Linked DNA regions of Homo sapiens. The protein of the gene in region 3 purifies or fractionates together with the protein of the main gene of each other region. This does not show direct contact. Each region holds a gene or a part of one and is shown on either strand. Other genes may lie near its edges. The genes, in order: PRPSAP1, LAP3, RAPGEF2, ERI3, CTTNBP2, WDR91 and SEC62.

Evidence for each region.
Region 1: the proteins of RAPGEF2 (region 3) and PRPSAP1 purify together in Homo sapiens (affinity purification with mass spectrometry; one large-scale study listed by BioGRID and IntAct). This does not show direct contact.
Region 2: the proteins of RAPGEF2 (region 3) and LAP3 purify together in Homo sapiens (affinity purification with mass spectrometry, with the first as the bait; one large-scale study listed by BioGRID). This does not show direct contact.
Region 4: the proteins of RAPGEF2 (region 3) and ERI3 purify together in Homo sapiens (affinity purification with mass spectrometry; one large-scale study listed by BioGRID and IntAct). This does not show direct contact.
Region 5: the proteins of RAPGEF2 (region 3) and CTTNBP2 purify together in Homo sapiens (affinity purification with mass spectrometry, with the first as the bait; one large-scale study listed by BioGRID). This does not show direct contact.
Region 6: the proteins of RAPGEF2 (region 3) and WDR91 purify together in Homo sapiens (affinity purification with mass spectrometry, with the first as the bait; one large-scale study listed by BioGRID). This does not show direct contact.
Region 7: the proteins of RAPGEF2 (region 3) and SEC62 purify together in Homo sapiens (affinity purification with mass spectrometry; one large-scale study listed by BioGRID and IntAct). This does not show direct contact.

What each region holds. Positions count from the first base shown.
Region 1 is NC_000017.11:76,351,117-76,355,171, reverse strand, and holds the start of PRPSAP1 (phosphoribosyl pyrophosphate synthase-associated protein 1), read left to right. Parts: upstream 1-1,255; 5' UTR 1,256-1,468; coding exon 1,469-1,638; intron 1,639-4,055. UniProt on the Homo sapiens protein: Seems to play a negative regulatory role in 5-phosphoribose 1-diphosphate synthesis.
Region 2 is NC_000004.12:17,604,501-17,608,697, forward strand, and holds the end of LAP3 (cytosol aminopeptidase), read left to right. Parts: intron 1-87; coding exon 88-167; intron 168-2,328; coding exon 2,329-2,438; intron 2,439-2,899; coding exon 2,900-3,089; 3' UTR 3,090-3,470; downstream 3,471-4,197. UniProt on the Homo sapiens protein: Cytosolic metallopeptidase that catalyzes the removal of unsubstituted N-terminal hydrophobic amino acids from various peptides.
Region 3 is NC_000004.12:159,354,359-159,358,555, reverse strand, and holds part of RAPGEF2 (rap guanine nucleotide exchange factor 2), read right to left. Parts: intron 2,704-4,197; coding exon 2,398-2,703; intron 443-2,397; coding exon 417-442; 3' UTR 1-416. UniProt on the Homo sapiens protein: Functions as a guanine nucleotide exchange factor (GEF), which activates Rap and Ras family of small GTPases by exchanging bound GDP for free GTP in a cAMP-dependent manner.
Region 4 is NC_000001.11:44,223,217-44,226,757, reverse strand, and holds part of ERI3 (ERI1 exoribonuclease 3), read left to right. Parts: intron 1-754; exon of another isoform or gene 755-992; intron 993-3,541.
Region 5 is NC_000007.14:117,866,736-117,870,932, reverse strand, and holds part of CTTNBP2 (cortactin-binding protein 2), read left to right. Parts: intron 1-4,197. UniProt on the Homo sapiens protein: Regulates the dendritic spine distribution of CTTN/cortactin in hippocampal neurons, and thus controls dendritic spinogenesis and dendritic spine maintenance.
Region 6 is NC_000007.14:135,208,668-135,213,375, reverse strand, and holds the start of WDR91 (WD repeat-containing protein 91), read left to right. Parts: upstream 1-1,849; 5' UTR 1,850-1,873; coding exon 1,874-1,996; intron 1,997-3,620; coding exon 3,621-3,800; intron 3,801-4,377; coding exon 4,378-4,585; intron 4,586-4,708.
Region 7 is NC_000003.12:169,983,261-169,987,457, forward strand, and holds part of SEC62 (translocation protein SEC62), read left to right. Parts: intron 1-2,544; coding exon 2,545-2,605; intron 2,606-4,197. UniProt on the Homo sapiens protein: Mediates post-translational transport of precursor polypeptides across endoplasmic reticulum (ER). Proposed to act as a targeting receptor for small presecretory proteins containing short and apolar signal peptides.

The DNA.
Region 1 (4,055 bases), on a different chromosome or scaffold from region 3:
TTGTGGTCCTTCACGACATGCTGAGTCACAATCTACTGCTCCCTCAAGCCCAATGTCACCACAAGCAGAGTCTCTAAAGGACATTCTCAGAAGATGGTACTGTCAATGTGAGAGGCACCTCTCCTCCCCTCGAGTTCTGGTGCAGCTGATAACTAGAGATCTCAAATGCTTCCCTGGGCTTTACTTTCTACTTCAACAAGTACTGATTGCGGGCCTCTGGAGCCCACACACTGCCCTATACACTGGGTAACACGGAGCACTCAGGAATACACGATCTTGGCGGGGCGTGATGGCTGAGGCCTGTAATGTCGGCATTTTGAATGACTGAGGTAGGAGGATGGCTTGAGCCCGGGAGGTAGAGGCTGCAGTGAGCCGTGATCGCGCCACTGCACTCCAGCCTGGGCGGCAGAGGGAGACCCTATTTCAAAAAATAAATAAATAATAATAAAATTAAAAAAAAAAAAAAGGAACTCACGATGTGGCCGTAAAATGGGTTACATCCTAGTTAGGAAAATAGATGTTTGCAAAGGTACATAAATATGCAAGCATCAAAACAATAACAACAACAACAAAAATTTAAAAAATGCAAGCATCTACGTGTGGCACAGTCCCGCGGGCCGGGCGGCTTACTGTGGTTGAGGTCACCAGAAAGACTGTGGAACAGACGCATCGCGAGTGGGTCTCGGAGGGGTGGCGCATATGGAAAGAGGAGAAGGAGGGCTTTTTTGATTGAAAGCGAATACCGGCAAGAGGGCCTTTGGCACGTTCAGGGAACCTTGCCTTACACGCAGACACAGGGTTGGGGATCTGTTCGGAAACGCCTGAAAGATCAGGCTCAGGAGAAGACCACTTTTTGGCCGCTTCAGTACTGCGGTCAACCAGCTGGAAAGAACCCCCGCCCTCTACTTTTCAAATTAATCTCCGGCCGGCGCACGCGCCTCGTGGGGCGGGCGCTGTGCTACCATAGACATGCAGAGCTAGATCGTATACCTCCTCGGAGGCGGACATGTTGGGTCCTGGCCAAAAAGTTGGAAACACCTGGGGCCACTACCGAGGTAGGCTGCTCCTCCCAAGAAAGTGAGACCGAAAGAGCTCCCGTGGAAGCGGTCAAAGCAGGGGCGGGGCGAACCTGTGACATGCCCCTCGGAAGAACAGGCTTTTAGAGAGTCGCCAGGCTCCCTGCCCTCATCCGAGATGGCGGCCTGAGGGCGCTCTAGCCGACGCTCTTCGGATGCCCGGAGGGGGCGGTGGCCTTGCCTCTGGCTCTGAGGCGGCGGCGCCGGGCGCTGCGAAGGCTCGGCCGCTGTAGTCAGTGGTGTGGGGTGCGCAAGGGCACGGACCTCGGAGCTCTCCCCGCTTGCGCCGAGTTTCTCAGCGCCTTCCCCACCCAAACCGGGGTCTCGCAGTCGGAAGCACTCAGAGTGCAGCCCCGCGCGGGGCCGGTCGTAACCGCGCCGCGGGCCGGACGATGCCCAAGAAGCTGCTGCTGTTGCCCCCGCCCTCCGCGTCCTCGGCTTTCCGCGTCCCGCGCGCCCGCCCCGTTCCCCCGCCGGCCATGAACGCCGCTCGCACCGGCTACCGAGTCTTCTCGGCCAACTCCACGGCCGCCTGCACGGAGCTGGCCAAGCGCATCACAGAGTAAGGGGGCGGTGGGAGGGCCGGGCCGGGGGCGGCGGCGCCTAGCTCTCCTTCGCGCCCGGAGGGACCCGCTCCCCTCCACCCGCCCCACCTCCTGCACCTGGGGCGGGAGGCGCGGGCCTTCCCAGCCGGACAAAGCTTGGAGGTGACGGATACCGCCCCCCGCTCCCCGGTTTTGCAGCTGGGAGGCTTGGGGCGGACTCTCGGTGACCTCAGCCCCCCGCCCCGTGACTGGGTCCGCGGCCTGCCTGCCTTTCGTCTCCGCAGTCCCACACCCCGGGGCGGGCCGAGCTTTCTGGAGCCCCGGAGTGCGTGTCTTGGGGAAAGGGGCTCAGGGCTTGGCTTCCTTTCCCACGGCTGGAGTTGACCTGGGAATCTGACCGCCGCCACTCTCAAGTCTCACTGCAGTGAGACCCGCGGGCGTGGTTGTGAGTTGGGGGATCCGACGCGGCAGGTGCGGTCGCAGAGCAAAGGTGTGGGGACTGGCAGTGCGAAGAAGGCAATTCCAGGGAGGCAGATGGGCCGGAGCTGGTGGTAGAAATGACAGGCCTGACCCTGCTTTGTAAATCAGCTTGGGATAAGATCAGTCATTTGTGTCTTTAACCCAACCAAGCCCCTGGTCTTAAGTCGCCTTTGGGGTCTGACAGCTCTGAGATGCCCTCCCAGCCTTGCCACTTACTAGCTCTGTGTCAGTGGGCAAGAGACTTGATTTCCCTGAACCTCATCTGTGAAATGGGCATGGTTGAGAATATTGTATGATCGGGATAATGTAGAAGTAGTATCTGGTTCTAGCAGAGTAGGGGCTCATAGTGGCCCTCTGAATAGTTGTTTACTAAGTGGCCTCTTTTCTTTTTCTTTTTCTTTTCTTTTTTTTTTTTTTTTTTTTTTTGAGACGGAGTCTCGCTCTGTCACCCAGGCTGGAGTGCAGTGGCGAGATCTCGGCTCACTGCAAGCTCCGCCTCCCGGGTTCACGCCATTGTCCTGCCCCAGCCTCCCAAGTAGCTGGGACTACAGGCACCCGCCACCACACCCGGCTCATTTTTTGTATTTTTAGTAGAGACTGGGTTTCACCGTGTTAGCCAGGATGGTTTCGATCTTCTGACCTCGTGATCCGCCCGCCTCGGCCTCCCAAAGTGCTGGGATTACAGGCTTCAGCCACCGCGCCCGGTGAAATGGCCTCTTTTCTAGTTGGCTCTTTTGGAGAATCCCAGAGCTCTGATATAAAGGAGGAGCCTTATATGCCCTTTCTACATACACTTGTTAGAAATCTAAGACATAAAATGAATAGCTCGTCTTTTAATATTTAAAGCCATTTTCACATTTTAAACAGTTTTCATAGAGTTACTTCGTTACTTTTTTAGGGTTGACAAATGATTGCAGGGATATATCTTAAACTTCTGGGGGGAAATGTAGAAGAAAGGGAAAACTTTAGTCATTTTTTTTTCAGCTCTGCTTGTTTTTTTTTTTAATAGTTGGAGTTTTGGAGAGTGGAAGAATGTTAAAAAAACAAATCAATCCTTTTGCAGTCTACTACCTAGTTTCTATTTCTAACCCCTGATTGTTTGTCTTTCTTTCTGAGGCCAACGAAAACACTGACTTTAAACGAAGCTTCTGTGTGTATCTAGTGGTTCAGATTTACCCTACCTGACCTTGAGGGAGAGCAGAGGGGAGCAGGGCACATTTTAAAAGTCAGTGAGGGTTTTTTTTGTTTGTTTGTTTTAGATTCTTTCCTGGCAAATTCCCGAAAGATTTTGAATTACTATAAATGATACATATTCATAAATACTTCCCTTACCTGTTTTACTTGTCGCTCAGTAAGATTTTGTTTTATCTTATCTGTTTTATTTATTTTGAGACAGTCTTGTGTCACCCAGGCTGGAGTGCAGTGGTGCCATCTCGGCTTACTGCAACCTCCACGTCCCAAGTTCAAGCGATTCTCCTGCCTCAGCCTCGAAAGTAGCTGGGATCACAGATGCCCGACACCACACCTGGCTAGTTTTTTGTTTTTTGTTTTTTGTTTTGAGACGGAGTCTCGCTGTCGCCCAGGCTGGAGTGCAGTGGCGCGATCTCGGCTCACTGCAGGCTACGCCCCCAGGGTTCACGCCATTCTCCTGCCTCAGCCTTCCGAGTAGCTGGGACTACAGGCCCCCGCCACCTCGCACAGCTAATTTTTTGTATTTTTAGTAGAGACGGGTTTCACTGTGTTAGCCAGGTTGGTCTCAATCTCCTGACCTCGTGATCCACTCGCCTCGGCCTCCCAAAGTGCTGGGATTACAGGCGTGAGCCACCGCGCCCGGCCACACCTGGCTAGTTTTTGTATTTTTAGTAGAGATGGGTTTCACCACGTTGGCCAGGCTGGTCTCAAACTCCTGACCTCAGACGATCTGGGATTATAGGCGTGAGCTACTGCGCCCGGC
Region 2 (4,197 bases), about 140 Mb from region 3:
GTACATGCTAAGGTTTCCATCTGGGTGGCGGAGGAGCCCATTTTGCCTGGAGAGACTGCACGTGACCTGAGGGCTTGTGTCTTACAGGTGCCATGGATGTAGCTTTGGGATCAGGTGCCACTGGGGTCTTTACCAATTCATCCTGGCTCTGGAACAAACTCTTCGAGGTAGGAATAATATTTGTATATCTAAATTGTAGAGATGGTGAATAAATTATTCTAGCCTTAGAAGGATAGACTTCTTCAACCCTGTGTTAAAGTGATTTTTATGCCGCAGGTTTGCCTTTGAATTGAAAATGAACCACAGCAATAGATTGAGTTCAGTGGCATTGGGTTTTCCACAAATGCTCCTAAAGGAGGGGATGATGCCCCCTGCTCCCCTCCGGTAGCCTCAGCGTCCTGTGAAAATATCTCACGAACACTGTGGTCATAGTTTTAGAATCCCTGAGGTAGAAATGGTTTTGAAGATGGCTTTGTGGAGCAGCGTTTGTGACTGCGTGTCGTGAGTCATATAAGGGAGTTCACCCTGCATCGATGAGGATGTCTTCAGACCGCTGTGCTCTGTGCCTCCCTCCATGCCCTTCACAGCCAGCCTCTTCCCAGCAGTCACCCTCACTTCCACACACACACACACACACACACACACACACCCTCACTTACTGCCATTGGTTTTCGAATGTCCACACCACTGTTAGCCTAACTCAGCCTGTCTTGAGGCAGCAGGTGACTCTGTGGCCTCCTGACACCTGGTTCAGCTTCTGTGATAATCCTTTCTTGGGCTGCCTCCTGTGATTCTCCTGCTCCTGTCTCCTGACGTGTTTGTTCCCTTTGGCCGCCCTTTGGCTGGTGTTCAATTCAAGGCCATAGGCTCTTCCTACTCTACACATTCCTCACATGGAAGCTCCAGCCAACACATGTTGCCTGATGGCTCCCATCTCTCTCCCGAGTCCCAGCCTCTGTGTACCCATGTGGCTGCTAGACAGCTCCAGCTGGCTGCTTACTCATTCATTCAACTAGTAATTAATGGGAGCTTACTCTGTGCCAGTGGGAGGGGAGACAAACATAAAATGTCCCCAAATATAATCCTGAGGGTGGTTTAAGGTCTAAACTTATTTTCACTCTAAACTGCTTCTCCTTCATATATGTCATCATTCACGAAGCCCAATTTTCCCAGTTCTGCAATACTCAGCCCCATCATCTTCTTCCAGGCCGGGCCAGGAACCTCTCCTCTGGCCTCCCACATAACCGTTATCCCTCTCTTTCATGGCACCCACAATATTGTTGTTTTGACTTTTAAAAAACATTTAAGCTTTAAAAAAAAAATCTCAGTTATATGTGCATAAATCAACAATCAGCAGCCCACAGTCTGTTTTCCAGAAGGCAGCCACTTTCAACCCTTGGCTGATTCATCTGGTATTTACTTATGTCTTAAAATAACAGCTTATATTGCTGCTTCTTGATTTTTCACTTTTAGGTCTTTGATTTTTTACCAGTGAGTTAAATAATCTGTTTATGTATCTGTTTCTCCTACTAGCCTGTAGGCCCTTGGGTGGCTCAGATGGTAGTATTTCAGCACACCTGGTGGTGCTCAGTAGTTCAGTAAACGATGAATGAGTGAGTGGGTAAGTGATGAATGAATGAATGTGGTCATCCTGTCTCAGGATTTCAGTGATACAGGTCCAGTCGTGTGTTTCTGTCACATAGAAGTGACCCGCCACATAAGAACTCTTTCACCCTCATCAACCCACAAAGCCTGTAATTGTAGTTTGATGATTTTAGCAAAATGCCCTACAGATTTGTGAAATTGCTTCACAGCATTCCCGGTTTCTTTTTATTTTTTATTTATTTATTTATTTTTGAGACGGAGCCTCGCTCTGTCGCCAGGCTGGAGTGCCGTGGCACTCCGTTGGCTCCCTGCAACCTCCCCGTCCTGGGTTCAAGCAATTCTCCTGCCTCAGCCTCCGGAGTAGCTGGGACTACAGGCGCGCACCACCACGCCCAGCTAATTTTTTGCATTTTTAGTAGAGACAGCGTTTCACCATGTTGGCCAGGATGGTCTCGATTTCTTGACCTCGTGATCCACCCGCCTCGGCCTCCCAAAGTGCTGGGATTATAGGCGTGAGCCACTGTCCCCAGCCTCCTGGTTTCTTTTATAGTTCTAAAATAAATCTTTTAATGAGTGGACACAATTCTGAAACCTATTTTCTAGTTTCATGTTTTAGAGTAACAGGTTAGAACAACTCTTCCTTCATGCATTGAGCATGTTAATGCCATGAATTTCCCACAACCTGCCTCATCCACTCTTCCACCTGTCATACCTGTTCTCTAGGCCAGCATTGAAACAGGGGACCGTGTCTGGAGGATGCCTCTCTTCGAACATTATACAAGACAGGTTGTAGATTGCCAGCTTGCTGATGTTAACAACATTGGAAAATACAGGTATGTAAGCTAAGCTAAATGTACATTTATACAATCATCCTTGATTGCCAAAATAGCTATTTTCAATTTTATCCCCTTATATAAAAGGTTTAACTATTTAATTTCCTTTTGGTGTAGTGCTTGTAAGATTTTTAATGTCTTGAATTTTCAAGTATTTCTTCAACCAGATTTCAAAATTTGCATATTTCTAATCTAATGGTAATTTTCAATAAATGGTAAGGGAAAGAGATGGAAAATATGGGAATTCATTACCATAGCAAAAAGGAATATAGAATTTATCCTTTACTGCTTAAAGCAATATCTGAAAATAAATATTCTGAAACTGATATGTGGGTTAGCATCTTAATAGGTCTTACAAGCTTGACTCTTGTTCTTTGGTTATAGAATGTACTTAGCAAAAATGTGGGATCTCAGTGCACATTTACATGGGGTTGTAAAGTGCTTTTTGTCTTTCTCTTCAGATCTGCAGGAGCATGTACAGCTGCAGCATTCCTGAAAGAATTCGTAACTCATCCTAAGTGGGCACATTTAGACATAGCAGGCGTGATGACCAACAAAGATGAAGTTCCCTATCTACGGAAAGGCATGACTGGGAGGCCCACAAGGACTCTCATTGAGTTCTTACTTCGTTTCAGTCAAGACAATGCTTAGTTCAGATACTCAAAAATGTCTTCACTCTGTCTTAAATTGGACAGTTGAACTTAAAAGGTTTTTGAATAAATGGATGAAAATCTTTTAACGGAGACAAAGGATGGTATTTAAAAATGTAGAACACAATGAAATTTGTATGCCTTGATTTTTTTTTCATTTCACACAAAGATTTATAAAGGTAAAGTTAATATCTTACTTGATAAGGATTTTTAAGATACTCTATAAATGATTAAAATTTTTAGAACTTCCTAATCACTTTTCAGAGTATATGTTTTTCATTGAGAAGCAAAATTGTAACTCAGATTTGTGATGCTAGGAACATGAGCAAACTGAAAATTACTATGCACTTGTCAGAAACAATAAATGCAACTTGTTGTGCTCTCTGGTGTGGCTCTGATATTTACTTACATATTGCTACAAACCCAGTAACTTATTACTAGAATATCATTCGTCTCTGTAGCCATGTTGTATGAACTATGTAATTAAATTGGGGCACAGTGGCTTATGTATTTTCTCAATGTTCCTCATCACTTAAAGGTACTCAGGGATTGAGCTCATCAGTTTGGGTAATAGTGGCTTGGCCCATGATTTCCAAAATGAATCAGTCAGAATAATAGTAACCATTGTTGACTTACCATCTGCCAGGCACTGTCCTCAGTGTTTTCAGGTGTTAAATTATTGAGTCCTACCCAATGAGACAGGTACTGTTATTACCCTCATATGACGGATGAGGGAAACGAGGCACAAGAGAAGTTTAGTAACATGCCACTGATGTCACAGAGCAAGTAACTGGTAGCTCAAAGTTCAAGCCAGGTGGTCTGGCTGCTGCACTGGTACACTGCAGTGCTCTTTTTCAGTTCAGTGACTTGAATGGATGTAGAATTTATTTGAAGTACTGAAGTAAGAAACATGACCACAGGCCAAGCACAGTGGCTCATGCCTGTAATCCCAGCATTCCGAGAGGCCAAGGCAGTAGGATTGCTTGAGGCCAGGAGTTTGAGACCAGTTTGGGCAACATAGTTAGACCCTTGTCTCTATTTTCTTAAATTTTAAAAAGAATTCAAGCCAGCAACAGTGTGCTGAAAAAAGAAACGATCATAAAAGGGAC
Region 3 (4,197 bases):
TTATCCCAATGAGATCAAGTGCTAGGACTGGATTGAAATCTAAAAGGAAGATTAAAAAAAATCCTTCCAGGCATTGAGAAGTGCAGCCAGAGTGAATCATCTTGTTGTGATGATCTTGGAATTTGGAATGATACTGTGTGATGTGGCAGGCAGCAACAGTGGGAGCTCGAAGATTGCTGCACTGTGCATTTCAAGCAACAAAGTCTGAAAAGTGCCAGGGCAATTTCTTCACAGTATTTCACATGCAAAGGGGAAAGGAAGAAGGGGAGAAGAAGCCCCATGCTGCTTTTAAGGCAGGGAAGGAGGCAAACTGGTCCACCGTCCTCAGAATGTGAGTTCCAAGGCTCCAATGCTCAGGACGTCTTCTTGTGCTCTCCTTTCAGGTGGCTCGCTCTGCTTCCAGAAAAGTCTGTGCCTCAAACAGCAGAAACTTGTTCATCTTCTGCAAATACAGCAGGGAAGAAAAAGAAATCAATGAGCAAGCAAGTAATTTCTTGTGCTATAGAGAATATATTCACTGATGTGCTAAATAAAACTATCATAGTTATTCTTTTTAGTATAGCTCACTTAGAATCCTTGTCTTTTTTTCCTAAACAATGACGAACAACAAAAAGGTTAAAATGTATGCAATACATATCTTTACATATATACACACAATATTAAAAAGATATGCATTATATATTTTTGTTCAGAAAGTTGTTAAATTCATTTTAAAAAGTTGTAAAATAGCATGTGCCATTTAAAAAAAATATACGATCAGATACACATAAAAAGTCTAGAATATATAACAACATTTTAATAGTGGCTATCTGCAAGTGACAGGATTTTAAGTAATTTTCATTTGTAATGTTTTTCTATTTATTTAATTTAATTTAACTTTTTTGAGACAGGGTGTGGGTTTGCCATCCACAGTGCAGTGTTCTCGGCTCACTGCAACCTCCGCCTCCCGGGCTCAAGCGATTCTCCTGCCTCGGCCTCCCAATCTCCCAGTCACGTGTTGCTTTTTTCTATGATTGTGTAATCAAACATGTTAAACTGAAAACTTTAAAGAAGATGGGAGGCCATGTTCTCCTTCCTCATTCTCAATTCAGCATGGTCAGATAGATTTGTAGAAAGAACGCACAAAGAGTTATAAAGAATGTGGGTTCCTTCCTTCCTTCCCTTTCTCCCTCCCCTTCTCTCTCTCTTTCTTTTAGAGACCGGGTCTTGCTCTGCTACCTAGGCTACGGTGCAGTGGCACAATCATGGGTCACCACAGCCCTGAACTCCTGGGCTCAAGTGATCCTTCCACTTCAGCCTCCATAGTAGCTAGGACTATTGGCACACGCCACCACGCCTGGGTCATTTGAAAAATATTTTTATGGAGACAGGTCTCACTATGTTGCCCAGGCTTGTCTCGAACTCCTGGCCTCAAGCAATCCTCCCACCTCAGCCTCCCAAAGTGCTGGGATTACAGGCATGAGCCATCAGGCTGGCTGATAATGTATCTTTCTTTATCAGACTTTCATTTCCAAATGAGTCCCAATTCATTAAAAGCGCAAATATAATGTTTCCACAGAAAACTTTAACCATCCACCTTTGAGAATCCTACATGCTTCTAAAATTCTTGACAACAGCACAAACTTGTGAAATTTTCATTTTCTTTTCCTTTTTTTGAGACAGAGTCTCACTCTGTCACCCAGGCTGGAGTGCAGTGACATGTTGTTGGCTCACTGCAACCTCTGCCTTCCGGGCTCAAGTGGTTCTCCTGCCTCAGCCTCCCGAGCAGCTGGGATTACAGGTGCCTGCCACCATACCCGGCTAATTTTTGTATTTTTAGTAGAGACAGGGTTTCACTACTTTGGCCAGGCTGGTCTCAAACTCCTGAGCTCAAGTAATCTGCCCTCCTCAGCCTCCCAAAGTGCTGGGATTACAGGTGTAAGCCATCGCACCTGGCCTATTCTTTTTCTTAAAATAGGGTCACAGAAGTACTTCAATTTTAACGAGAATTAGAAAAGAAATCAAGTCATATAAACACTGTATTTTAAGTGACTCCCTCCATAATCTTTGGGATTTTTTAAGCCATTTAGGGAAACACACATACACAGACACACAGAAAGCAATCAAATTTTAGTGAGAATTGGAGAAGAAAACCAGTTATATACACACTGTATTTTAAGTGACTCCCTCCATAATCTTTGGCATTTTTAAAGCCATTTAAGGAAACACACACACACACACAAAAGAAAGCAGTCAACAGCTGTAACCCTAAATTTGGAACTCTGAATGTAGTGTACTTTGTGTAGTATATGGTTAGACATAGCTGACTGCAGTGTTAAGAGAACAGAAATGCCTTGGGAAGCAGCACAAGTGAACACATCTAACTTGGAGGTTTTAGGAATATTTATGTGCATATACCATCCTCCTCGGTGGAAAACCCTTGGGACTGATAGGGGGCGAGGCGCGGGTCAGACTCGTTCGGTTTATGCCACTGAGGTTTGTTCACAGGCCTGCTGCTGGTGGGATGCCCATGTGGCTGCTGTACGGATGAAGGCCCAGCTGTGTCGGAGGATCGTGCGACCATCCGCGATCTCTGAAGGGCCACGTTGTAGTCCGGCGGTTTCCTGGCTGGATGGGAGTGCCCTTCTGGAAAGTCAGTAATGGGAATTCCAATGTAGCCGGGAGGGGTGGGCGGGGGCTCTCGATACCTGCCCTCCTTTCGTGCTAGAGTAGAAACAATGCACCAGCATTAAAAACTAGTTCATGCCACAAAAGTTTATTAAAAATATAAAAATAATTACTAAAACAGCATCCACAGTGTAGCAGCAGATGTGCATTTGCATGGTATCGGTTAGAGGTGCGGTGTGAGGCAGGCCAGGGAATGCATGTTAACTAAACCAAATTTCACAATGATGTTATCTTTGTGTGGTGAAATAATTGGTGAGAGAAGCTGCTAGTCCATCTAAGTACTTTTATCTTTAAATGGGCTGCTTGTCCATTTAAAATGGTCTGTAACTATAAAATAGTAAGATTAAAACCTAACCCCTGGATTTATTGGAAAGACTGAAGCACAGGAAGAACCTAAGTACACAGCACTATGCCTAGAACCTGTTTGTGCTTGGTACAAGTTCCCTTTTTCCTCTCTGCCTGCCGGATCTGCCCTCTTTCTGGGCATTTATCTTTACCAGGCAGAGAAGCAATTCTACATCACTCTCGGGTCTCAAGACTTCACTTACAGAAACAGTGAATTAAAATAAATTTGGAAAAGTCGCACAAAGGATACCAATTTAAAAATTCTAAAACTATTACTATAAGGTGTCTATTTTTCTTAAAATCCCTTTATTGATGCTCATGACCTAGAATATGAAACCTGTATAGGCCAGTAAAACTAAAGTTTCATTTTCTTGAACTTTTAAAACTCAATTGTTAGGAACTAAAAATCATTCTTCCTTCCTTTGCAATAAAAATTCTGAGTATTAGTTGTAAGCACTTGAAAAAGTCCAACCTAAGAATATTTATTAACTGTTTTCTCCTTATTCATTGTAAAAGGATATTAAACTTGAAATCTACCCATGACTATTTACATGGCTAAATAACTACAATTTTCCTACTAATAAAAGTAATGTCCGTAATGATTATACTCCAGAATTTCTCACTCTACAACCTATCATCTGTTCCTACACTTCGTCTATATAGATGTTAATTGTGCCATAGAAAACACATCTCAACAGGACTGAGGGCGCATGAGAGCCTCTTCTAACAGGAACAGCAGCAGCAATAGCTTTCATGTACTTAGTGAATCTACTATCTGGGCACTGTTCTAAATACTTTGCATAAATTTCCTTGAATCCTCACACTAACTCCATTAAGTAGAAATTATGAAGCTCATTTTACAGATGAGGAAACAGGCACTGTTTTGTATTTTACCCAATGTCACAAAACTAATAAAGTGGCAAAACAGGGATTCAATCCCCAGTCCGCCTGACTCCTAAACCCGTGCTCTTAGTCATTACACTATTAGCACCTCTCCCTCCTTCTACAGCGTGCACAAAGAATTGCTTATCAACAATGTGCGTGCAGAATAAAAATCAATGGAAGACTTTTAAGTATACAAAGCGTATAGTTCTAAATACAATCAAGAGAACAAAATAGAAGAATCAAAGATATAAAAGAGTTTCAATTAAAGAAAAATTTCTCCTCTATGAATAATAGGAATCC
Region 4 (3,541 bases), on a different chromosome or scaffold from region 3:
AGCAAGACATTAGCCTAGAAACCATAAAGAAATGCCTGACAAATTTAGATGTCCCATAGGAATATGACTTAACTCATCCAAATTTGCACCTTCCCTGGTATGCCTTATCTCAGTGAGTGGCACTGAGATCCTAGATGCTCCCCCTGTGCTGTCCTAATCCCCCCATTAAGGACTGCTCGTTCTATTTCCTAAAAATTCTCTTACCTCCATCCACTTCCCCCACATCATCAATAGATCTTCTCCTCCATTTCCACTGCCACTGGCCTGTTCTGGGCCATTATTTCTGGTCTGGACCATAGTACAATCTGCTAATTGATCTGTCTGCCTTCAGGGTTAATCCTTCCAATCCTGTCCTCACATCTAGGATCATAATTCTGAAACAAGATCTGGTACTGTCATTCCCCTCCTTAAACATGTCAATGTCCATCATTCTCAGAATATTAACATCTTAAGCTCCTTAGTTTAGCATTTAGGTTCTTCAGGATTCCCTTTAGTCAGTCACTGACCACCAGCTTCATCTCGTTGCCACTCCCTTCTGATTCTTCATCCCCCCACCCATCTGATAAACTTATTTGGACACTCCACATTTCACCTCCATAAATGTGCCTGTACTATTTATTGAACACCTTCCTCACCCCAGCCCTAACAAGGTGGGCTAGCTCCCTCCCCCATCCCCTAAGACCTCTGCTTAACTTTGGAATATTTAATCCTCAAACAGAACTAGATAACTTTTCCATGCGTCCTTTTCTCATAGCACTGCACACCTGACAGGGCTGTCTTTGAGTTCCTTGAAGGCAGGGAGCTACAGAGTCTTGCACATCCCTCAGAAGCCATATGGTACAAGATCACTGAGCATACAGAAGGTGTCAGCGCATGTTTGCTGAATGAATGAGTATATGAATGAATGGACTTCTAACTTCTTGGGTCCCCTTCCTCCTGAGGGTCTCCCTAGCCCAGGCCCTGCTTCCTGTCCACTGCCACTCAGTTCCCAGGTAAGTACCGCTAATGGAGAATATCAGCCTTAGGTTGTTTGCCCTTTGTGAGCTCTTTCTGGGTGTCCTAAGTGATCTGAGCAACCCTTCTGTGTGGAGATTGTCAGGCAGACATTTGACTGTCCTTGGGCCCAGCCAACAAGCTTGTCTTTCCTTGTAAGGTGCTAGCCCCACTAATCTTCTCTCAGGGATTTATGCAGCTGCACTCCTCACATTATGGTCTTGGCAATATAAAAATATTTCCAACACTGAGAATATTAATGCCCCAAAAAAGAAGAGGAGAGGGTCATCTTGTCACAAATTGATGATCCTGCAGAAACATAAAAACAGGTTAGCCTGACCAGGTATGGTGGCTCATGCCTGTAATCCCAGCCCTTTGGGAGGCCGAGGTACAAGAATTGGAGGCAGAGGTTGCAGTGAGCTGAGGTCACGCCACTGCACTCCAGCCTGGGCAACAGAGCAAGACAAAATGAAACAAAACCAAAGGTTAGCCTTCTAGAATTTGAAGGTGAGGTAGAGGCCTCTTGGAGGCCTCTATTGTGGGTGCAAGGCTGTGCTCCCTGCCACCTCACTCCCACCCTACAGCAGCTTCATGCTGGCCTCCTTAGCTCAATGAGAGGTGCTGGAAGGCAAGCCTGCTAACCCAGGTGGCCCCCAGAGCTTCAAGCAGAAAACTTTCCAAGAGACTGTGTTGCCACCAGACACCCTGCTGCTCTCTCTCTCTGAATTTTTGGCCTATTAAAAGCCCCAGATCTGTCTCTAGTGCTTCTTCTGCCAAGCTTCCTCACTTTCTAGCAGGGCCATAGACTTTAAAAAACAAAATATATATATATTTGTCAAGGCTTCAAGGGCTGGAAAAAGAGCCTGGAGCTAGAAGCCCATGACTGCCATTCCACTGACTTGTTAGGTGAACTGGAGCAAATTTCTTCCTTTCCCTGGTCTCTCTTTATTGTAGTGGGCCAGTTGCAACAAGTTAGACCCCAGAAATACCCAGTAAACAGGATCTGAAGTCAGAATTTGGAGTGAATGCCAATTGGTTTCACTAAGTCTGCTGGCCCCTATCAGTCATCTGTGCTATCAATTGTATACACTTTCTCACCACTAGGTCCTCCAGAAAACTAGCTTCCTTGCCTTTTCTTCAGAAAGAGGAGGCATTCCAAGCATAAAGAACAGCATGTGCAAAGATGTGGGTGCAACACCTTGTTTGGTCCTCACAATAACAGCAAGGCCATTATCACCCTAGTGGAGGAACCTAAGTATTAGAGACGCTAAGCCCTTGCTGTGTGGTATGCAGCCAGTGGGTGAAATTAAGATTGGAAACATGTCTTTCTGGCTCCAAAACCCACTTTGTCATTTTCAGAAAACAGTGAGTGGGTCCTTGAGATTGGAGTCCAGGGATTGAGGGTTGAGCATGGCAGAGACCAGAAATAGCAGGGATCAATTTTTGCGGAGCCTTTAAGACATATTACTGGTGTAGACTTTAAACTGAGGGCAAGGAGAGCCACTGAAGGGCTTTAAGGAAGAAGAACATGATCAGATTTATGTAAGAAAGATCAGTTTGGCTGTAAGAGAATGAATTTGAGGGAGAAAGAGGACAGCTGTTGTAATCCAAGATGATTAGGCAGAGAAGAAGAGAAAATCTGCGTAAGTTCATACTTGATTAGATTTGGAGAGTGAGGGAGAGGGCAAAGTGGCAACATGACTCAGATTTCTTTGGGCATTTTGGGTGGATTATGGTGCCATTCACTGGGATGGAGAACATAGCAGGGTGAGGGGTAAGCAGCAGCTTGGAGAGAAAATTAGCTCGTGATTGGACGTTTAGGGTTTATCTAGAAAGAGATGTTCAGGAATATGTGGTGTAGAGCCTATGAGCTGTCCAGGCTGGAGAGGTGATCTTTAGCGGGTAGCTGAAACTCACGATTTAGATGAAGCCATCCAGTGTGTAGAGTGGGGAGAGGTCAAGGACAGAGACTGGGACGTGGGGACCCTCTCCCAGCACAGGGCCAGGCACAGGTGGGAGAACAGTGCTTGCCCACTGGATGGCTGGTGGCCTGGGGGTTGGGGCTGGGACATTCACTTGGGCCAGGGGAAGCAAATTGAACGATTTGTCCAGCAATGAGGGAGGAGCCAGATGAAGTCAATAGAAAACTAATTTTCTTTTCTGCTGGAAGAAATGAGGTGTGTGGCCGCTGGGTAATTGCAGATAACGAGGGGACTTATTCTTAATATGCACAGCGGCCACGGTCCCTAGGGTACCGGAGACAGGAAGGATTGGAGGTTCCCTGATAGGGCCAGACTTATTTGGGAAGAAAATCACCCTATCATAGTCTCTCTGTTGGCACTACCACAGCCCATGGACCCCATCCTAACCCTTCCCCCTCTTAGGCCCCTTCCGGTCCCATTCCCCTTCCTGTCAACTGCCTAGCACAGCCCCTCCCTCCTCCACCCACTACCCCCAAAGCATAGGCACACACACTAAGAGAGACAAATGATGGGGCCTCAGCTGAGCGGGGTGCGTGTCCGGCCCATAAACCATGGGGATGGGTCAC
Region 5 (4,197 bases), on a different chromosome or scaffold from region 3:
TATCATTTTTAGTGGAATGTTTTAAATTTAGTTTGTGATCCTCATTCTTAGCTGTTTAAATCCTGAAAGCATCCCAAGTTTAAGGCTGGGTAACAGCTACATTATTCAATAGGATCATATTAATAGTCTTTGCCGTGAACCGTGCCGGGAAACCTGGGCTATTTTCAGTGCCTTAGCCAAATGTGATGACTTTTATAGGCCATATTGCTGTTTCCACTCTGAAAATAACTCCTAATGGATAAGGCAGTATGGAAAACGAAATCTTCATGCTTTTTATTGTCACCAAAGAATTTTGGAATGAAAGGAAAATGGAGATCTTTTTAGAGCTATATTTGGGAAGCCAACCAACATTCTTGTCATTCTGAGCTTTTCTGGAGCAGCTAATAGACAAGAAGTAGGTATAAAATTTGTTGTCATGGTGGCAGTGACAAAGAAAAACTTGGACAATGATTTAAAATGCACGACAGTGATGTTAAACAAATTAACAGCTGAACTTGAAATTTTTGTTTTCCAGGTGACAGTATTGAATGTAAATGCACTGAAAAGAACTTTCGTAGCCAATTGCGCTAAGCGTTTTTTTAAACTAAATTATAGTTACGTGGCAGCTATAGAATGTTGAAAGTGTTGCAGCTTAATTTTTAAATAGGAAATAACGTAGATTTAACACACATTACTGAACACTTACTGAGATACAGGCATCATGAGTATGATCTTTGCTACCCTAAAGTAATACATTCCAGTGATAGAAACTGACATACGCCAAGGAATCAAATTGGGGATGATGGTGTCATGAGAGGCAAAAATGATTTTGCATTAGAAGTTTGGAGAGGAACAGTCATAGAGAGGGTCCCTAGTGGATGGATCTAGAAACTTCCATAGAAGGATGACATTTGAAGTAGTCCTTGAGACTGAAGGAGGATTTGGACCGGCACTGCAAGAAGGAGTGTGCAAATGTGGTCATATCCTAGGGAGCCATATGCGAAGGGTTTTCAGTGATGAGCATAGAGGTTCCCATTCTGGTCTCAGCTATATGGTTCAGAAAAATAGCTTGGAAGTTGAGGAAATTGACTGGAATATTTTTCCAAAGATGAGAATATAACTGTTTTCAGTGTCCTGCTTTTCACTCTTTTTTTTTTCTTCTTAAATAATAGGTTGTAGATTTCTGTTTGCCCCAGTTTTTGAACTTTATTATTATTGTCGTTGCTGTCATTGTTATTGTATTTCTCACAGCAGCAATTTTGTTTAGAGAACATTTGTCCTCTCAGTGATTGAATCCATGCCTGGGCTAGATTACCAGTTGGTTCTATCCTTGTGTGTTTCTCATAACTTTATGAGGTGAGAAAATGTTTCACAGCCTTGGTACTTAGACATTTACAAATATCTGCTGTTGATCATGTGGACAGGAAGGCTGTGGCTGGGAGAAAGCAGCCTCCTCCTCCGAGGAGAGTTGTGTGAAGTTTGTAAAAGAAAGCAAAGGTGGTTAGCACAATGCCAGGCACATGGTAAGTGTTCCACAAATATTTACTGAATGAAGAAAATGAAAAGAAGCTCACCAAGAAGCTGTGTCATAAAATTTAATGTTGATTGGCTAATTAGAAAACTCACTTTGTGTGTTACCAGCTATCTTATAGTGAAATTATTGGCCTGTGACTTGTAATAATTAATGTTATAGATATTATAGATCTTGATCCAAAAAGATAACCCTAATTCTTTTAAAATTTTCATCTTAATACTGCCGCTTTCCAAGCTGCTTTTCTCAATGACTTCTTAGATTCTTTGCAGGGGTTTTTTAAAAGTTTAATTTCCAACACTATTAGTTTTCTCTTTAGATTCTCGCTTTTCAAAATGATGATTGAGGCTGCACCTCTACCATCCTGCATCCTTCCAATAATAAGAGTCAAGGCCACATCACCCATTGGGGTGTGGAGGAGAGGATGATTGATAGGGGGTTAAGAGAAATGTGGGGAAGTTTGGAAACAGGAAAGGGGAATAAAAGGAAAGAATGGGCAGGAAAAAAGGAGTTTAGGCAAGGCTTTAGAATAGTCTGCAATTTCACAGAAATGTGGGACTGGAATTTCAACTTTGAATGTGCCTAGGAAGGATGGAGCAGTATCCCCCAACTTCATTTACTTTGCTACCCAGGCCTGTCTGAGTATTGCTTTAGAAGGATACTTTATTTGAACATACTCGATTACATTATTCTCTGTTGGTGCTCCTTTGCAAAGCTTATGTAACATGGAAAAAGATTTGTCTTTTCTGTTGGTAGTTAGGTAAGGAATCAGAGGACAGGTACGAGAGACGATGATGATGACATCGATATTGAAAGATTTTTAAAATTTTAATGTTTTAAATAACTTACACAAATAATGAGATCATATTATTAATGCCGTGTACAGCATGATGCCTTCCATATAGAAATCCTGATTTTAGAGTAGGGGGAGATACTCTCTTTAAATAAATTGTTAGTAACCAACTAATACATTGGGGATCAGTTTAAAAGGTTATAGTAAATGTAGAGTAGTCGAGGTAACATTGCTGTGTAGAGTGAGTACTTGTTTGCAGATGATTTGGTTTTGACATTTTTATATTTCATTGAAAAGACAAGATGGTTCCAAAGGCCTGCGTCTTCATCTGGCCCAGCCTTTTCATTTGAAAATCAGCGTGCAGATATTTGCCACCTACAGATAATCAAGACTATTCTTTAATGCATTGTAAGCTTCTTAAAGGATGGTTATTACATTTGAATGTCTGCTTGCCTGTGGAGCTGATCCATGTCCCATGTCGGGCTGATGTCACATCGAAAAACTGAGTTAGGGTGAAAATAGATGTTTGTTTTATTTGAGATGTAGTCCTTTTTTTCCCTAAGGAGGAAATAGAGACTGCGGGGAGATCTGAAAGGAGGAAAAGGGAGGTAGCTGAGCTTAATTATCAGAGGCTGTCACCCCTGAGCCACTTTTCTGCCATTCTTTCCAGCTTTCTCAGCTAAAATTAGTTACATCCATTACCAGGTTTCCTTCCTGACATTGTTTCCTTGTCAGTATTACCTCCTTTCAATACACTGAGTTTCTTGTCTTGCATCAAAGACCCCAGACAGTGTGGTTGATTTGAGGTGCATGACCTTGGAGAGCTGACACCAAATAGATCTCATGTTCTCGTACTATATGTTGTTTTAAAGTGGAACATCAAGCAGCTTCCCTAGTTTAGGTTACTCTAAATGATTTTTGAAACACTGAGAGAATCATCTAATACAGTTACTTAGTTCCCCCTAGAGTGGGCTGAAACATTGTATCTTAGTAAGATGGATGTACCTGAGACATCCTTTGCACACTTTCTGTTTTCATACTGTGTGCAGTAGACATTTTATACCCAAAGTGTATATGGTGGGGTGGGGGCAGGGGGAGCATGTTGGATAAAATAAGTGAAGAAGTAATGTTCTTACTGTCCTGACACATCTAGTAGGAGTGAGAAAATAGAGTTAATAGAGATAATAAGTTTACTATGAGGAAATGCACAAGGCCGGACATGATTAACTGCCAAGTGAAGTAATAGAGCAGATTTTAAGACTGAATGGCGAGAACAAGAGATTTCTGGAGTCTGGAAAGACATTCAAAAGTGGGTTTGAGCTATGTGCTGAAGAAAGATAGTACCCAGATGAATCAGAGGAGAATGGAGGATTAGGAAGAGCAGCATCAGAGGTATGCAACCCCATCACAAAAATTCTTTCCTCCTTGTAGAGAGAGAAATCGGGAAGATAATCTCAAGGCAAGAAGTAACTTCAGAGATTTGAAAATACTTTGAGATCTTGAGAAGTATGTACTTTTCTTCATGAAAACCCTTACAATTAGCTGAATTCTTAATATAGTGCATGTTCTTATGTACCTAGAGAGGTGAATTTAATATTTTGCATGTCAGTGATACAGCCTTTGCATTGTGATGGTGAACTTTCAAGTTGATTTCATTGCTTTTCCTTTTTGATAGCCCTTATTCATCCCCAAAGCATAAATCTTGCTTACATAGAAAGTTCTAAATGCATTATTATTGGCATGCACTATTAAACTGGGAGGAAAATACATTTCTCTAACTTCTGAGCAAAGAGGCAAAATCAGTTTTCCTCAAGTACCTCACAAACGCTTTTAGGCTCAGGAAATGACCTAAATGAATTTCCTCAGTCCAGTAATCCAGTTACCCTGATGGTAC
Region 6 (4,708 bases), on a different chromosome or scaffold from region 3:
TCACCGTGTTAGCCAGGATGGTCTCGATCTCCTGACCTTGTGATCCGCCTGCCTCCGCCTCCCAAAGTGCTGGGATTACAGGCGTGAGCCACCGCGCCCGGCCTATTGTCACCATTCTGCAGAAGCAAGTCTCAAAGATATTGGCTATTTTCCTACTTACAAAAATACGTGCACCTTGTAAAAACTTCAACAATAAAAAGAAAGTAAAAAACAAGAAGTCCTTCATAGTCTCACCTCTCAGATAAAACCACTCCAATTGTCACTTGGTATCTGCAGGGGGTTGGTTTTAGGACCCTCCCTAGAAGACCAAAATCCATGGATGCCCTGATGTAAAAAGGCCTAGTATTTGCATCTAACCTATACACTTCCTCCTGTATACTTTAAATAATCTCTACATTGCTTATAATACTGAATACATTGTACATGTTATGTAAATTGTTGTTATGCTATATTTAATTTGTGTTTTTAAAAATTGTATTCTTTTTTAAACTGAGACGGTGTCCTGCTCTGTCACCCAGGCTGGAGTGCAGTGGTACAATCACAGCTCACTGCAGCCTCGACCTCCTGGGCTCAAGTGATCCTCCTGCCTCAGCCTCCCAAGTAGCTGGGACCACAGGCAGCACCACCACGCCCGGCTAATTTTTTTTTTTTTTTTTTTTTGAGACAGAGTTTCGCTCTTGTTGCCCAGGCTGGTATGCAATGGCGCGATTTCGGCTCACTGCAACCTCCACCTTCTGGGTTCAAGCGATTCTCCTGCTTCAGCCTCCCGAGTAGCTGGGATTACAGGCATGCGCCACAACGCCCGGCTAATCTTGTATTTTTAGTAGAGACGGGGTTTCTCCATGTTGGTCAGGCTGGTCTCAAACTCCCGACCTCAGGTGATCCGCCCACCTCGGCCTCCCAAAGTGCTGGGATTGCAGGCGTGAGCCACTGCGCTCCGCATTTTTTTTTTTTTTTTTTTTTTGTGGAGATGTGGTTTCGTCATGTTGTCCAGGCTGGTCTCCAACTCCTGGGGCCAAGAGATCCGCCTACCCTGGCCTCCCAAAATGTTAGGATTACAAGTGTGAGCCACTGCGCCCGGCTATTTTTTATTTTTAAAACTTTGGAAAAAATATTTTCAATCCTCGTTGGTTGAATCCGTGAATGCGGAACCCGAGGATGCAGAGACCCGACTGCATAGGAACTTGGTGTATAATCTTCCTGAATTTAAAAAATGTACACACATACATACCTAATTTTTTTTTCACAAGAAACCAGGACTATAGCGTACATACACTGCTATGAAATTTGCCTATCCTAGCAGTGCATCTTGGTTATCTTGCTGTGTAGCCAATTCGTCTTACTAATGAAAGCAGAGATTTGGGGGAGTTAGCGCTCTCTGAGGACACGCGTGTTGTGGCTTCACGCAGGTCACTCTGCTCTTAGGGCTCCAGCTTCCTCCGTGTAGGAGGAGGGCAGGGGACCGGGAGCTCTGCGATGTAACGCCAACCAACAGGGCGCCGCACCCCCTGCCCGCCTCGGGACTACCTGGGATGTTCTTAAGATCCAGTCTTGTTTGACGTGGGTGGCAGCCGCCACTTTCAGTAATTCAGACAAAGCCGCCGCCGGCGCCGCCAGGACCTCCCCTCGCCACTCCTCGGGAGGGGTAAGGGTGACTCGAGCGGCCAGGCGGGCTGGGGCTGGCTCAGGGGCGGGGCCTCGGGCGGGGAGCCGGCCGAGGGGCGGGGCCTCAGGCTGGTCGCCCAGTGCGTGCGGGCTGGTAGGCCTGTCGCGGCGTGACGTGCTCGGCGCCCGCGTCCGGCCCCGCCCCATTTCTCCCAGGCCCCGCCCCTCCGTCCCTCACCGCACCACCCCTAAAGACGCTAGCGCTGCGATGGCGGAGGCCGTGGAGCGCACTGACGAGCTGGTCCGGGAGTACCTGCTCTTCCGCGGGTTCACGCACACACTGCGGCAGCTGGACGCCGAGATCAAGGCGGACAAGGAGAAGGGGTTCCGGGTGAGAGGCCGGCGGGAGCGGCGCGGGCAGAGGCGGCCCGAGGGAGCCGGGGAGCGGGCTTCCCCCCAGCACTGCCTCCGGGGCGAGAGCGGCGCTGTCACTCGCGCCGGGGCGCCGGAGACCTCAGCGCGTCCGACCCCAGCTTGACGGATGAGGAACTGAGACCCTCAGACGGACAGGACCTGCCTGAAGCCGCCCCCCGAGTCAGGAGCATCGCCGAGGCTGGAGCCCCGATGCCCCGGCTCCTGGTCTAGGGTTCTGTCTCCACTCCAGCCTCCTTGGCCAGGATGGCGATGAGGTTTTAGGAGCCGAGGTTAGGTAGATGGTTGCGTTTTGGCAACAGATATTCGTGTTGGCTTCCAGTGGCAGTGGAAGCAAAGAAGTCTGCAGTCCAAAACGTTAGCTGCGTTCAAGTATCTGCGGTGTTTGTTTAAAATGGCCTCGTCAGGGACTCATCGGCAATTTTGCTTCTGCAGTTGTGGAAGACCTCATGGCACATTAGAGAAACCCAAACTTCCCCTGCTCTAAAATGATTTTCCATTGCGAGGTTCTTGGAATGTATATGTGTGTGATTTGTATGTTTGTGTGTACTGACTTCAATGAGAGGCAGTGAGCTAACAGCAAGAGCACTGGAGGGGAGTTAGGAGATCTGGTTTCCTGCCTGGCCAAAGTTAGTGGCTACTTAGTGGCAAAAGCAAATCATTTCACCCCTCTGGGCTTCAGTGGCCTGATCTATAAACTAGGGGCATTGGATTGGTATTGATATCCAAACCCTTTTCCAGATTCTGTACTCTGCTGTAATTGCTCCTCACAAGAAGGTGACTTCCTTGGCTGACACTCTGAGCAGCTACCACGGCTTCGTGGAACTTTGATGACTTGAAGGAGTCAGTCCATGCACCTCCTCATGATCCTTGGGATCTGGGAATTGTGGAGATTGTCTCATAGCTCTTCTTCACCCCACCCCCTTTTTTAAAAATGTGAGGTAACTGAAACTACAGTTAAGCAACACTGCCATTTTTTTTTCTTTTTTGACAGAAAGTCTCACTCTGTCGCTTAGGCTGGAGTGCAGTGGCACGATCTCAGCTCACTGCAACCTCTGCCTTCTGGGTTCAAGCGATTCTCCTGCCTCAGCCTCCCGAGTAGCTGGGATTACAGGCGCGTGCCACCACGTCCAGCTAATTTTTGTATTTTTAGTAGAGTCGGGGTTTCACCATGTTGGCAAGGCTGGTCTCGAACTCCTGACCTCAGGTGATCCATCCACCTCAGCCTCCCAAAATGCTGGGATTACAGGCGTGAGCCACGGTGCCTGGCCTGATGACACTGCCAAATTGATCAAGTAAGTCAGAGGCAGATCCAAGATCTGGAGCCAGATCTCTTAGGTTCTGGGCCAGAGCCCTTTTACACCTGAAATTTCCGTGCTTGCTAGAGGGTCAAACCACTTCTCTAACATCAGAAAATTACTGAAAAACCGTTGCATTAGTATGTTTTGAAAATTTTATAGATTGCTAACTTACAAATTTTTTTTTACACCCAGAAGCCATGACAAGAGGAAAAAGCTTTATTCCATGGAGGGGAGAATTCCCTTCTGTCCCTTACCACCTTCTCCATCCATGTTTCTCGCCAGGTGGATAAGATTGTGGACCAGCTGCAGCAGTTAATGCAGGTGTATGACTTGGCTGCCCTTCGGGATTATTGGAGCTACTTGGAGCGTCGGCTCTTCAGCCGCTTGGAGGATATATACAGACCCACAATCCACAAGCTGAAAACCAGCCTGTTTCGATTTTATCTTGTCTACACAATCCAGGTGCCTGTTGATTCAGGGGTTCTGCTTCCCTTGGTGGAAGGAGCTCTTTGATCCCAAAATAGATTTTCTTCCAGTTCCTAGGGAGGAATCTGTATGTGACTATGGGAAAGAGTGCAGCAGTTACAGTGCAATTATTTTTGACTGTTTTTCTTCTTTTTTTTCCTTGTCGTCATCTGTAGATCATCTGACTTGTCTTCCCCATTCCTATTTCCTTTTTTATGTTAAGCATGTAAGCTTAAAACAAAGGTGGTATTTTAAAGAATATAAGTAGCTGGGTTAAAGTTTGAGTAATAAAGATGATAGCTGACCTGGAGGAATGAGTCACTTAGTTATTTGAACATCAGCTAGGGATTAATTTTTAGGATGGGATTTATCATTAGAACTTCAGCTTAAACCAGCTTTGAAATGACAAGTTCCTTGAGAAAAGAGTGATGATTTCCTTTATATTATGGAATTTTATTTTGCCACTTACCTGGCAGGCTGATAGTCAAAGGTTGTCTGCTGTGCAATGATGAAGAGTCTTACCTCTGGATTTCTGTCTCTCCTCCCTCCTTGCTACCTCCTTGTGTCTTGGCAGACAAACAGAAATGACAAGGCTCAGGAGTTCTTTGCAAAGCAGGCCACGGAACTCCAGAACCAGGCTGAGTGGAAGGATTGGTTTGTCCTGCCCTTCCTGCCATCCCCGGACACCAACCCCACCTTTGCTACCTACTTTTCTCGACAGTGGGCTGACACCTTCATTGTGTCCCTGCACAACTTCCTGAGCGTCCTGTTTCAGTGCATGCATATCCTTTCAGTTGCCTGGGGCTGAAGGCCCAGCCTGAGGCACCCAGACCTCAGGATCAGTAGCCCGCTGGTCTCCATACAGGCATTTCTTCTACAAAAATGCCCAGGGACCATTTTTATGG
Region 7 (4,197 bases), on a different chromosome or scaffold from region 3:
TAAGCCTATAACTAGAAGTTCAGTTTTCTATAGGAGTTTTTAGAAAGATGTTTGATGCCTTCACTAATAAAAGGAAAAATTTTGAGAAATCTAATTATGCTCTTAAATGTATAAAAGCTACTCCATTTTTAAAAATCAATAATTTCTCTTATTTAGATTTTTAAAAGTCAGATTTGACTGTGAGTGATAGGAAACCTGAAATAAAAGCATCTTAATACAAAATAGATGCTTATTTCTTTTTTATCAGTGAAATCTGTAGGTAAGCTGTACAGATACGTCAGCTCCATGGTGGATCCCAGCTCTTCTTTTCTCCTCTGTCTGAGGCTTCTAGCTAAGGTTACCTTATGGTCCAGAATGACTGCCAATCTTATATCTGCATCGAAAAGAGGAAAGGAGAGTGAAGAATATGTCTCCTCTTTAAGGAGACCAGTTTAAGGACACTGTCCAGAAAGCTGGTAATTTCATTTCTGCTTGAATTCCATTGGCCAGAACATAGTCACATGGTCATGCATATGAGAAGTAAAATCTTGGAAATGCACTTTTTATACAGGATGATTATTTGCCCAGCCGAAATGTAGGGTTTCCATTATTATCAAAGAAAAAAGAGCAGAATAGGAGATAGCTACAAGTCTCTATCTCTTACAGAATGTAAGTCAGACACATCACTTGAGGGGCTTAAAATTTTTAACATTTCTTGATGCTTTATGCTTATCATTTGTAATGGAAGATTTGTATGGTGGTAGCCTTCCATAAAGACTGCTTAATTCAGTCACTTCACCAGTACGTAAACATGAGTTATATACTGGGCATTGAACTGTTGTGAATTTCAGGATATATCCTTTCCTGTTATACCTATACAATAGTAACATCTATAAAGTCATGGCTCCTAGGGTTGTGTGTTTGAAATTCTTACTTGCATGAGACTATCTAGAGTGGGATTGTGGGGGAGGATTATATATCTATAATAAAGTGTCCTCAGGTGACTGATGTGAACCCCTTGTTGAGAACCACTGTAATAGAAATTTTTATTTTTATAGGCGTTGGGAATAGCTTGATAAGTAGGATAAAATCTCTTAATGGTCTAGCAAAGATACAGGCACTTAAACATGTTAATATAGTACAGTGTGGTAAGCATTAATGGTGTGAAAGCACCAGGTAGGAATAGTTAATTTAGTCAGGAAGGATAAGAAGGGTCTAAAGGACATTTGAGCTTAGACTTGAAGATGACTGGCAGATTGCCAGGCGTGCCAGGAAGGAGGTTAGGTCTGTTAGGGAAGGAAACAGCCTGAGCAAACGCATGGGTGCTTGGTATCCTGAGAAGCCTAGATTTTATTCTGTAGAAAGCAGCATGCACTCCATAACTTTTAAAGTTGTGAAATATCTTTTTTAAAAAAACATGTTTTTTTAGAATGGAAACTGGCAGAAGTAATATCTGTGAATCTGATTCCCAAGGAAATGGGCAGAGTAAAATAAGAGGTTAAAGTGGAACCTCTGGTGTTAAAAATTGAAGAACCACGTTGGAAAGACAATAAAGAGTTCTGGTCAATATAGAAATAAGAGGGAAGAGTACTGTTATTTATAGAAACTAAGAAATAAAACTGAGTTTTATGGATGAATGATCAAACAGAGTTCTGATCTGAATGAAGTAAATTTCTGTTGTGTAAAATAAGAGCCTGATAAAAGTAAATTAAGTTTTGAAGTAGTGGTTCCCAGCTTATGGGCCCTCCATGGAGGAGTAGGCAATGAAATTAATACAGTCATAGAGACTATGTTCACCAAGCATGATCTTTAATAATTGATCTTTGTGTCTTCTCAGGAGAGAAAAGTGTGGAGTTGAGTGATACTAGATCTGTAATAGGGCCTGGCTGGAATCTGTCTTAACTGCGCTTTTATCCCAGACTGGTTCATCATTACATTAGGGACAAAAAGGTTGGCAGTTGCTGGTGTTTTGGTTGAATAAATAATGATGTGCACACATGGAACAATTTTTTTTTCCCCCAAGACAGAGTCTTGCTCTGTCGCCCATGCTGGAGTGCAGTGGTGTGATCTCAGCTAACTGCAACCTCTGCCTCCTGGGTTCAAGCAATTCTCCTGCCTCAGCCTCCCGAGTAGCTGGGATTACAAGCGTCCACCACCACACCTGGCTAATTTTTGTATTTTTAGTAGAGGCAGGGTTTCACCATGTTGGCCAGGCTTGTCTTGAACTCCTGACCTCAAGTGATCTGCCCGCCTTGGCCTCCAAAGTGCTGGGATTATAGGCGTGAGCCACCAAGCCCAGTCAAACAAATTTTTAAGTGTATGTAAGAACATACAAATTTACTTAAGTGCTTTATAGAATTTATAGTTATCCTATAATCATTTTCTAGCGCCAGAAGAACCACTACTACTGAAGGAAAGATCTTTGGAATTTATTTACCTTAGAAATTACTTCTCGTATGTTAAGAGGTTGATGACTGCTTTAAGGGACCTAAAATATAGAATTAAGCATTACTTTCTAATGTGACATTAGAACTTTTAAGCACCGAGGTTTCTTGATTCTTCTAGGTGTATGTATGGATCTATGACCCAGTTCACTTTAAAACATTTGTCATGGGATTAATTCTTGGTAAGTAGTGAGATGTTAATAGCTATAAAGTGCAATCTAAAATTTAGAAAACAATATGCAGATACTGTAAAAGAAAATGTTCCTAAATTTAACATAAAATAGTTGTCATTTTAAAAATACTTTAAATAAAGTCAGAAGATAAATAATACACTAAGGAAAATATTTGAAACATATTAAAGATCTTTTAAGAGATTAACAAACTGATAGAAAAATGGTCAAGGTAGTTAACAGATAAAGAAATACAATGACCAATCATCATGAGTGATACTTAATCACACTCATATACAAATTAAAGCTGTAGTGATTAAGAGTCTTGCAAACCTTAACATTAAAGGTCTTAGAAAAAAATCAGCTCTCTCTAACAGTTGATAGGTATGTCTATTGTTTTAATTTTTGTAAAGGGCAGTTTGTCAGTATCTTTGAAATTTTATGTGTCTGCAGTGACCCAGCAATTCTAGGCTGTTCCCATACAGTTGCACAAAGTGTGTGCATTGACACATTATCTGTTTTTTTCCAAATCCCTTAGACTATACTTGAGTATAATCTAGCAAATATCTTTCAAATTCAAAATGCTTATACCATTTGATCTAATAAATTCCACTTTAAGGAATTTACCCTATGCCATAATCACAGTTGCACAAACGTACATGTGCAAGGATATTATACCTAGAATAGATAAAAAAAGAAAAGAAAGTTACAGACGAGTAAGAATAGTATAAGCTCATTTACTTATTTAGAAAAAAAGTCCCTGTAGCTAGTTAATTATATATAGGCAGTCTCTGAGAATACAGGTAAGCTTAATAGTACTTAACCTCTGGGAAGTGGAATAAGAATTAGATGAAGACTTAATTTTCTCTATACCTTTTGATTTGCTTGTTTGTGACAGGGTCTCATTCCTGTCACCCAGGCTGGAATGCAATGGCACAATCATGGCTCACTGCAGCCCGACTTGCTGGGGTCAGGTGATCTCCCACATCAGCCTACTGAGTAGCTGGAACTATAGGCACACTCCACTACACCCCGCTAATTTTTGTATTTTTTTGTAGAGATGGGGTTTCGCCATGTTGCCCAGGCTGGTCTCAAACTCCTGGGCACTTGCCTCGTTGTCCCAAAGTGCTGGGGGTTTGATTTGTTTTTGATTTGCTTTTTAACGTGTGTATTCCAGGAGGTTTTATGGGGAAAGAATGATTTAACAAACAGAAAAAAAAAAAATAGGTAGCAGTTAAAATAAGCTTGGTCAATATGGTATGATAGGATCCCATTCAAAATAACTCTTTAAGGCTGGGCTCAGTGGCTCACACTTGTAATCCTAACACTTTAGGAGGCCAAGGCAGGGAGATGGCTTGAATCCAAGGGTTCGAAACCAGCCTAGGCAACATGGCGAAACCTCGTTTCTACAAAAAATTAGCCGGGTGTGGTGGTTCACACCTGTAGTCCCAACTACTTAGAAGGCTGAGGTGGGAGGATCACCTAAGCTCAGGAGGTCGAGGCTGTCGTGAGCCAAGATCATGCCACTGTACTGCAGCCTGGGTGACAGAGTAAGACTCTGTTTCAGAAAACAAAAAGCAAAATAACTCTTTTATAATAAGAGT